Linked DNA regions of Homo sapiens. The protein of the gene in region 2 purifies or fractionates together with the protein of the main gene of each other region. This does not show direct contact. Each region holds a gene or a part of one and is shown on either strand. Other genes may lie near its edges. The genes, in order: ITGA5 and THBS4.

What was found.
Region 1: the proteins of THBS4 (region 2) and ITGA5 purify together in Homo sapiens (co-immunoprecipitation; one study listed by IntAct). This does not show direct contact.

What each region holds. Positions count from the first base shown.
Region 1 is NC_000012.12:54,409,215-54,413,032, forward strand, and holds part of ITGA5 (integrin alpha-5 precursor), read right to left. Parts: intron 2,751-3,818; coding exon 2,620-2,750; intron 522-2,619; exon of another isoform or gene 384-521; coding exon 271-383; intron 139-270; coding exon 18-138; intron 1-17.
Region 2 is NC_000005.10:80,080,251-80,084,008, reverse strand, and holds the end of THBS4 (thrombospondin-4 isoform a precursor), read right to left. Parts: intron 1,650-3,758; exon of another isoform or gene 1,604-1,649; coding exon 1,464-1,603; intron 930-1,463; coding exon 868-929; 3' UTR 722-867; downstream 1-721.

The DNA.
Region 1 (3,818 bases), on a different chromosome or scaffold from region 2:
CCCCCTCTTGCCCCTACCTGAGCGGCAGGGTGCATACTCCAGAATTCGGGTGAAGTTATCTGTGGAGAGGTAGCAGGTGCCCACGGGGTCGCTCAGTGGCTCCTTCTCTGTGCGCCAGCTGTACAGTGGAGCGCATGCCTGGGAGGGCCCAGGAGGAGGGGCCTTCAGATTCAGTCCAATAAGGCCCTTCCTCCCTCCCTCCAGGCCCGGCCTTACCCAACCACTGCCCATCCCCTGGCCACCACACCACTGAGCTTGCTGGCCCCTCACCAAGATGGAGGAGCCATGGGCTCGAACTGTTGCCCCGAACCACTGCAAGGACTTGTACTCCACAGGCTCCTCTCCCTCTGAGCTGGACAGTGAGGACTCCAGGAGCCGAGAGCCTTGTGGAAGTGAGAAGGGGGAGTCTTACTGAGCCATGGACATTTGAGCTCTAGGGCAGCCCCTACCCTCAGCCTGGGGATACCCAACAAACGCTTCCAAGCCCTGAGACTCCATGACTCGCTGGGAGTGTGGAATTGGTAAGGAGCTTAATTCTGCTTTGTGTAGTCTGTTTGTGTAGCCTGACTTATCTCTCCACTACACACATACACATACACACACACACATACATACACACGCACGCACACGCACACAGAACCTGGGCTTTCTTTTTTTTTTGAGATGGAGTCTCACTCTGTCACCCAGGCTGGAGTGCAGTAGCATGATCTCGGCTCAGTGCAACCTCCGCCTCCCTGGTTCAAGGGATTCTCCTGCCTCAGCCTCCTCAGTAGCTGGGATTACAGGTGCGCGTCACCACACCTGGCTAATTTTTGTATTTTTAGTAGAGACGGGGTTTCATCATGTTGGTCAGGCTGATCTCGAACTCCTGACCTCATGACCTGCCCGCCTCAGCCTCCCAAAGTGCTGGGATTACAAGCGTGAGCCACTGCGCCCGCGTAGAACCTGGGCTTTCTAGAGTTGCCTCCCCAAGGTTCCTGCTTTCTCACCCAACTGAGACAAGGATGCCTGCTGTGGAGCAGGGGCAGGAGGATGGTGGGGAACAGTGGCTATTTCCCAAGAGAGTAACCCTTTGGCTGCACTTCTTTGTCTATACTTGGACTGTGTCTCTAACACCATCTTGTTCCACCTCCTTTTTTTTTTTTTTTTGAGATAGGGTCTCACTCTGTTGCCCAGGCTGGAGTGCAGTGGCGTGATTATGGCTCACTGCAACCTTGACCTCCTGGGTGCAAGTGATCCTCCCACATCAGCCCCCCAAGTGGGTGGAAACTATACCCAACTAATTTTTGTGTTTTTTGTACAGATGGGGTTTTGCCATGTTGACCAGGTTTATTTTAATTTTTTTTTTTTTTTAAACAGGGTCTTGCTCTGTCACTCAGGCTACAGGGCAGTGGGGCAAGTAGCACTCATTGCAGCCTTGGCTGCAGTGACGGAGAATCACTCAAGTGATTCTCCCACCTCAACCTCCCGAGTAGCTGGGACTACAAGTGCTCACCACTATGCCTGGCTAATTTTTTTTTTTTTTTTCTTGAGACAGAGTCTTTCTCTGTAGCCCACGCTGGAGTGCAGTGACATGATTTCAGCTCACTGCAATCTCTGCCTCCTGAGTTCAAGCAATTCTTGTGCCTCAGCTTCCCAAGTAGCTGGGATTACAGGCAAGTGCCACCATGCCCGGCTAATTTTTGTATTTTCAGTAGAGACGGGGTTTTGCCATGATGGCCAGTCTGGTCTCAAACTCCTGGCCTCAGGTGATCCACCTGCCTTGGCCTCCCAAAGTGCTGGGATTACAAGCATGAGCCACCACACCCAGCTCTGTCTAATGTTTTTGGTAGAGACAGGGTCTCACTATGTTGGCCAGGATGGTCTTGAACTCCTGGGACCAAGTGATCCTCCTGCCTCGGCCTCCCAAAGTGCTGGGATTACAGGCACATGCCACCGTGCCCAGCCTGTCCAGTTTTTATTTCTGGAGACAGATGGCCCTAGTTCATATCCTCTCTCCAATGTTTGCTAGCTGTATAACCTTGGATAAGCTACTTACCCTCTGTCTCCTCACTTAGAAAATGGGGATAATAATACCTTATACAGTTGTTGAAAAGATTAAGTGAACTAATATATGTAAAGTGTTCACAACTGGGCCTGGCACAGAGCAACTGATAGCTGTTAGTCTCCATCTTCCTCCCATCCATCTGTGTCTACTCAGACCTTGAGCTCCTTGAGGGCAGTGGCTTAGTCATCTTTCAGTCCCTGCAGCACCAGCACAGTGCCTGTCATGCACTGTCACTTAGTCAGTACTTAGTTAAAGGAACTGAATAGTTTGTGCAACATTCCCTGTCTTTGTCTGTGTTACGGCCCTGGCCTCCCAGAATTGTGGGTGATTCAGGGGAAATGAGAGCCACATGTTTCTGAATCATGCCCGTCCTCCTTGGGCTGGGCTGGATGGGAGAGTGGAGTGAGTGCCATGGGGATCCACTGTAAGCAGTTGGAGCACCAGAGCTGGTGCTGAGAGGTCACGTGGCCGGGGTTCCAGCAGGCTCCACCCCTCGCCCCAGGCCCCACCCAGGCCTTGCCCCCAGGCTGCAGTCCCACCCCCCAGTCCCTCCCTGAATTTCACTGGCCTACCTTTGCTGTCAAATTCAATGGGGGTGCACTGTGTGGGGCTGGCACCCCAAGGACAGAGGTAGACAGCACCACCCTGCAGCACTCCTGGCTGGCTGGTATTAGCCTTGGGTGCTCCCACCAGCACACTGACCCTGTGGGGGGGAAAAGCGAGGCAGTTGAGGATGGCTCCTAGCTTTTCATTGGTGTCTGGAGGCAGGAAGGACCCAGGCCTCTAGGCTGGGGCTGGCTGGGGGTGGAGTAGATGCCCCCTGCGTTGTATTTATATCTCAGAAGATGCCACAGATGCCAGAGGCACAGGCTGGAGTCAGGCGGTCCCCATGTGCCGCTGTCACTAACACAACCCTCCCCTCCTCCCGCCATTCTCTGTCCTCTCCTACCTTATCCTGTTCATAAAGAGAGGAGGAACCACAGTCAATTTCTAGAAGGGGAAGAGGGGCCAGAGCCTGTACCCCTGGCTTCTCCCTCTCCTCTACGTACCTGCTGAGATTAGATGTATAGCTTCTGGAGCGCCAAGGTCCTGTGGAGCCTCAGGGTCTCTCATCTAGCCTATATACTCTCCTCCCAAGCCAAATCCCCTCCCTGGGCCAAGACCCAGGCATCCGGCTGCCCAGCCACCCAGCCTTGGGGCGTGTAGGAGGAAAATGTGAGTCTTGGAAATCAGGCAGCAGGAGTGGAGAGAGGAGCTGGAGGACAGTGAAAACAGATTGTTCCACTGGGCCTGGGCCTGCCCTCACCCCGGCCCTGGTGTGGGCCTCCCCTTCCTGGCTGGGTCTGTGTTTCAGCCCTTGAACCCCTTTCCCATAGACCACCCCCAGCTGACTGAATTCAGAGTCTGCTCTACCGGGGTCCCAGTTCTGGACACAGTGCTTCTGTTCCCCCTGATATGAGGGGAAGTTTGCCCTGTGTAATGGGGTGGTCATAGCTAAGGGCCTGGGCAGTCCTCCTGCCGTCAGCTCTGCCTCATTCATCCCTAGGTCTCTTGCCTCCAAGACCTCCACACCGCTCTTGGCTCTCTTGGTTTCCCCTAAGGGTCTCCTGCCAGGACTTGTATCTGGCAGCCTGGGCAACTCGACCCAGCCTCTGGACCAGTGCTCCTGCCAGCCTTGGCCTCTGCTCTGCTCTGTGTCTGCCTCTGGCACTGCTTCTCAATCCCTCTGTCCCTCTGCCCCTATGACTGCTTGCTCTCTTGGTTTTGGTTT
Region 2 (3,758 bases):
TTTGCTTGGATCTTGATTTACAATTGAAATACAAGAAAGGCTAGTGTACAAATTAGGCAAGTTTCTGTGCTGTACATCCAGCTACTGGTACCACAAATAGAGGATATGTTGTGACTTTTTGAGTTGAGGAGGACTTTTATGATCATGTACACTCTACTGTCCTTTAAGAGGCATTCATTCATTCATTCTTCGTTTATTAATTCAGTAAACATTTACTGGCTATTTACTACATTCCAGGTACTGTGGGGATATTGATTGTAATGACATGATCCTTTATTGTCAATATGCTTACAGTCCACTAGGGGGAGCCAAATATATAAATAAGCTTAAGAATTACGTTGAAGGGGCCAGAATAGAAGTCTGTGGAAGGTGTGGGATGGGATGACAGCATCAGAAAGAATTGGGCAAATCTGTCCCAGGACTAGGTCAGAAAAACGCCTCCCTAGGGAAGGTGCCACCCCAAACACGTGTTTCTGAGACCCCTTACCCGAAATAAGGAGGCTGCCAAGGTGAGCATGGAACGGTTAGGCGTTTTGTATGGAGCAAACTGGGGGGACCCCAGCTGAGACCTCTGGCCTGGGCCTTGTGATTCACGCATAGGCTCATCTTATCGGCCACCGGGTCTGAGAAGAAACTACCACCCTGCAAGTTAACAGGGATCCCTCCGAGAACGGGCACCTCAAAGCCTGAGCCACGTGAGAGCAATGTCTGAGCAACACGGTTTTTAAAAATGATCTCTTCTCCTTTATTGCCACATTCACATAAAACGTTTTGATATATTTGGGTTGGTAAAAGCTAAAGAAAATTGAAGTTAAAATATATATGGTTTTAGTGTTCCGAAAAGCAGTTACAGATTGCTTCCTTGGTTTAATTATCGAAGCGGTCGAAATTCTGGGTTTGAAACTCTTGGAAGTCCTCAGGGATGGTGTCTGCAATAGGAATGGGCACAGGGAGGTTAGCGAGGCTCCTTCCACCCCGGACCCCGGACCCCCGCCCGCGGCTCAGGCGTCCTGTAGGGGGCGCTGTTAGCCCGCCCAGGACGCCCCGCAGGCCCTCGCCGCCATTTTCTCCTGCAGGCTGCTTTGCAAACCGTTGGCTTAAAGCCCAGGAGTGCTCCTTCCCGGCCGTGCAGAAAATCAGCAGGCAGAATGGATTTTGCATCTGTGATTATGTTTTAACCACATGAAAATAAAGGCTTCCTGTAAATTAAATCTGACTGGATTTCTCACTGAACCCCAAACCCTAAACCATGCAGTTAAATTCTATGGGTCTTAATTTCCACATGGATAAAATAGGATAAATGTGATCTGCTTTTTACTTCTGGTACACAGGGACTATCAGGTTTTAATGACTATGTGGTATGAGCGTTGGGCTTTTGGGGGGGAAGTGCGGTATAAAAATAAGGTGGCAGTGTTTGACTAATTCTAGTAACAATGTTGAACAGTAACGAGAATGCACATTACCATTGCAGCGATACTTGAGGTTGGACCAGATGATGTTTTCTTGAGAGAAGCAGAAAACGCCAAGTCGGCCTCCACGCATTGTGGTGTCTATGGTGACGCCAGAGTCAGCCACCAACTCAGAGCCTTCATAAAATCGTACCCTGCGGACAACACGGCCGGAGGGGCCTCCATGAAATCCAACCCGGGGTAAAGTGCCCACTGTGAGGCCCAGGGGCCCCACTTCTTATACGTACCTGCGTCTTTCTTTGCTCTGTTTTAGGCTCCATTTTTCGCTGACCTGGATTGTACTGTAGCTGTTGCCACTTACTTACTAGACTGGAAGTCCTTGAGGGCAGGGACCGTGTGTGTCCGTGTGTGTGTGGAGGGGGGTGGGGGGTGTTTCTTCCCAACTTCTGTCTCTCACAAGGCCTAACATGATGTTGGTCACACTATCAAACTTGAGTTAAAAATCAAACCAAACCAAACCTGCTATCTTGAGTGAGAAAGTTTTGTGTCTTATTGTCATGTGAGTTGCCTTGTCTAGATACCATGCTTAAAAACTTTGGCTTTTCCTTTGGTCTGATTTATATCTTTTGGTGGAATCTCAGAGCAATGATTCTCCACAGGAGACAGCACTCCCTAAGTAGAGTTGGAGGAATCTGTGGGGACACTTTGGGTTGTCACAGTGGCACTGAGTGATGGCAGCCAGGGATGCTGGATGGCGAGCAATGCCCTGGCGAGAACAATCAAAACCTGTCCTGCATTCCATACACTTCTGGAGTGTTCCTCAGACACCAGGGTAGGTAAAGAGCAACTATCAGGGCCTAGAACCTGACTCACTTTCACTTGTAAACAGCAAGTATATTTTGCACAAATTTTAATATAAACTATATTTTCCAGGGTAAATTGAGAAAATTTGTTTGAAAATTAACATTCTAAAATGTGTACCATTTGAGAAATTTACATTGCTGTCATCAACCAGTGTAACAAACATTTAAGTCACTGACACAACAGTCTGTTAGAATGTCACCTTCGTAGTGATTCTAGGCATGGGTGCAAGTGTCTGTTTCATTTTGTCTTCTGGTGTGGCTGTGCTCAAATATTTAAATTATTTTGTTATAAATTATTCTTATTTCTCTATGATATTGTTAGGGCTCACATTGATTTTCTAGATTATACGTGTAGGTAGGTTGTAATTTCTATGATTCCATTTTGGGACGGAAAAGGGGGCATTTCAAAATATTTATAATAAAAAAGGGGCATTGGGCTTAATAGGGCTGAGAACATGATCATCTCACTGTGAGACAAAAAGAGTACATTTGACATAATGTCACAAAGAGAAACAAAACATGAATTTGCCCTCATGATTTTCTTTTTTCCACAAGGCTGCTTTCCTGCCCTGATGAGGAGAATGCACTCAGTACTCCTTCCTAAATATCCTACATAGGCTAGGATGGGTGTTGATCTGCAAGTTCAAATGAAGAAGAACACTATCTACATTTCAAAGACACAGCCCTAAGCCTCCTAACTCCCGAGAATACTTAAAAAACAACAACAAAAAAGTCCTATAAAGAAAGAAGTCAGACTACTTTGGCCTACATGATGATCAGTTCATGCCACGTGTAGTAGATGTCAGGCTTTGTGCTAGGCACTGGGGAGATCAAGATAAAATAATAAGCTATGGCTAGGCACAGTGGCCCATGCCTGTAATCCCAGCACTTTGGGAGGCCGAGGCGGGTGGATCACGAGGTCAGGAGATCAAGACCAGCCTGGCCAGCATGGTGAAACCCCATCTCTACTAAAAATACAAAAATTAGCCTGGCGTGATGGCGCGTGCCTGTAATCCCAGCTACTCGGGAGGCTGAGGCAGAAGAATCACTTGAACCAGGAAGGCGGAGGTTGCAGTGAGCTGAGATCACGCCACAGTACTCCTGCCTGGCAACAGAGTGGGATTCCGTCTCCAAAAAAAAAAAAAAAAAAAAAAAAAGATACAAGCGCTGCTCTCATGCAGTTTGTGATCCAGCAGGGAAGACAGACTGTAAGGGACATAGTGCTGCAGTCAGGGTGAAATGTGCACTAGTAAGTGATTACACAGGGCCCAGAGGTGCCACAGGGGAGGGTGTGGAGAAGAGACCCTGCCACACCTCTTACCTCATACCGATTGGCATGTCCACCCTCAGGCTTCTCTGCAGAGCATGGCAGAAGGGCACAGCCATCCAAATGCACCAACCCCACAACGCTGGGTCGTCCCCTCAGCTCTGCTCCTTCTATCCCCATCTTGGTCCTACTGTCCTGTCCGGGTGGTCTGACCCTGAA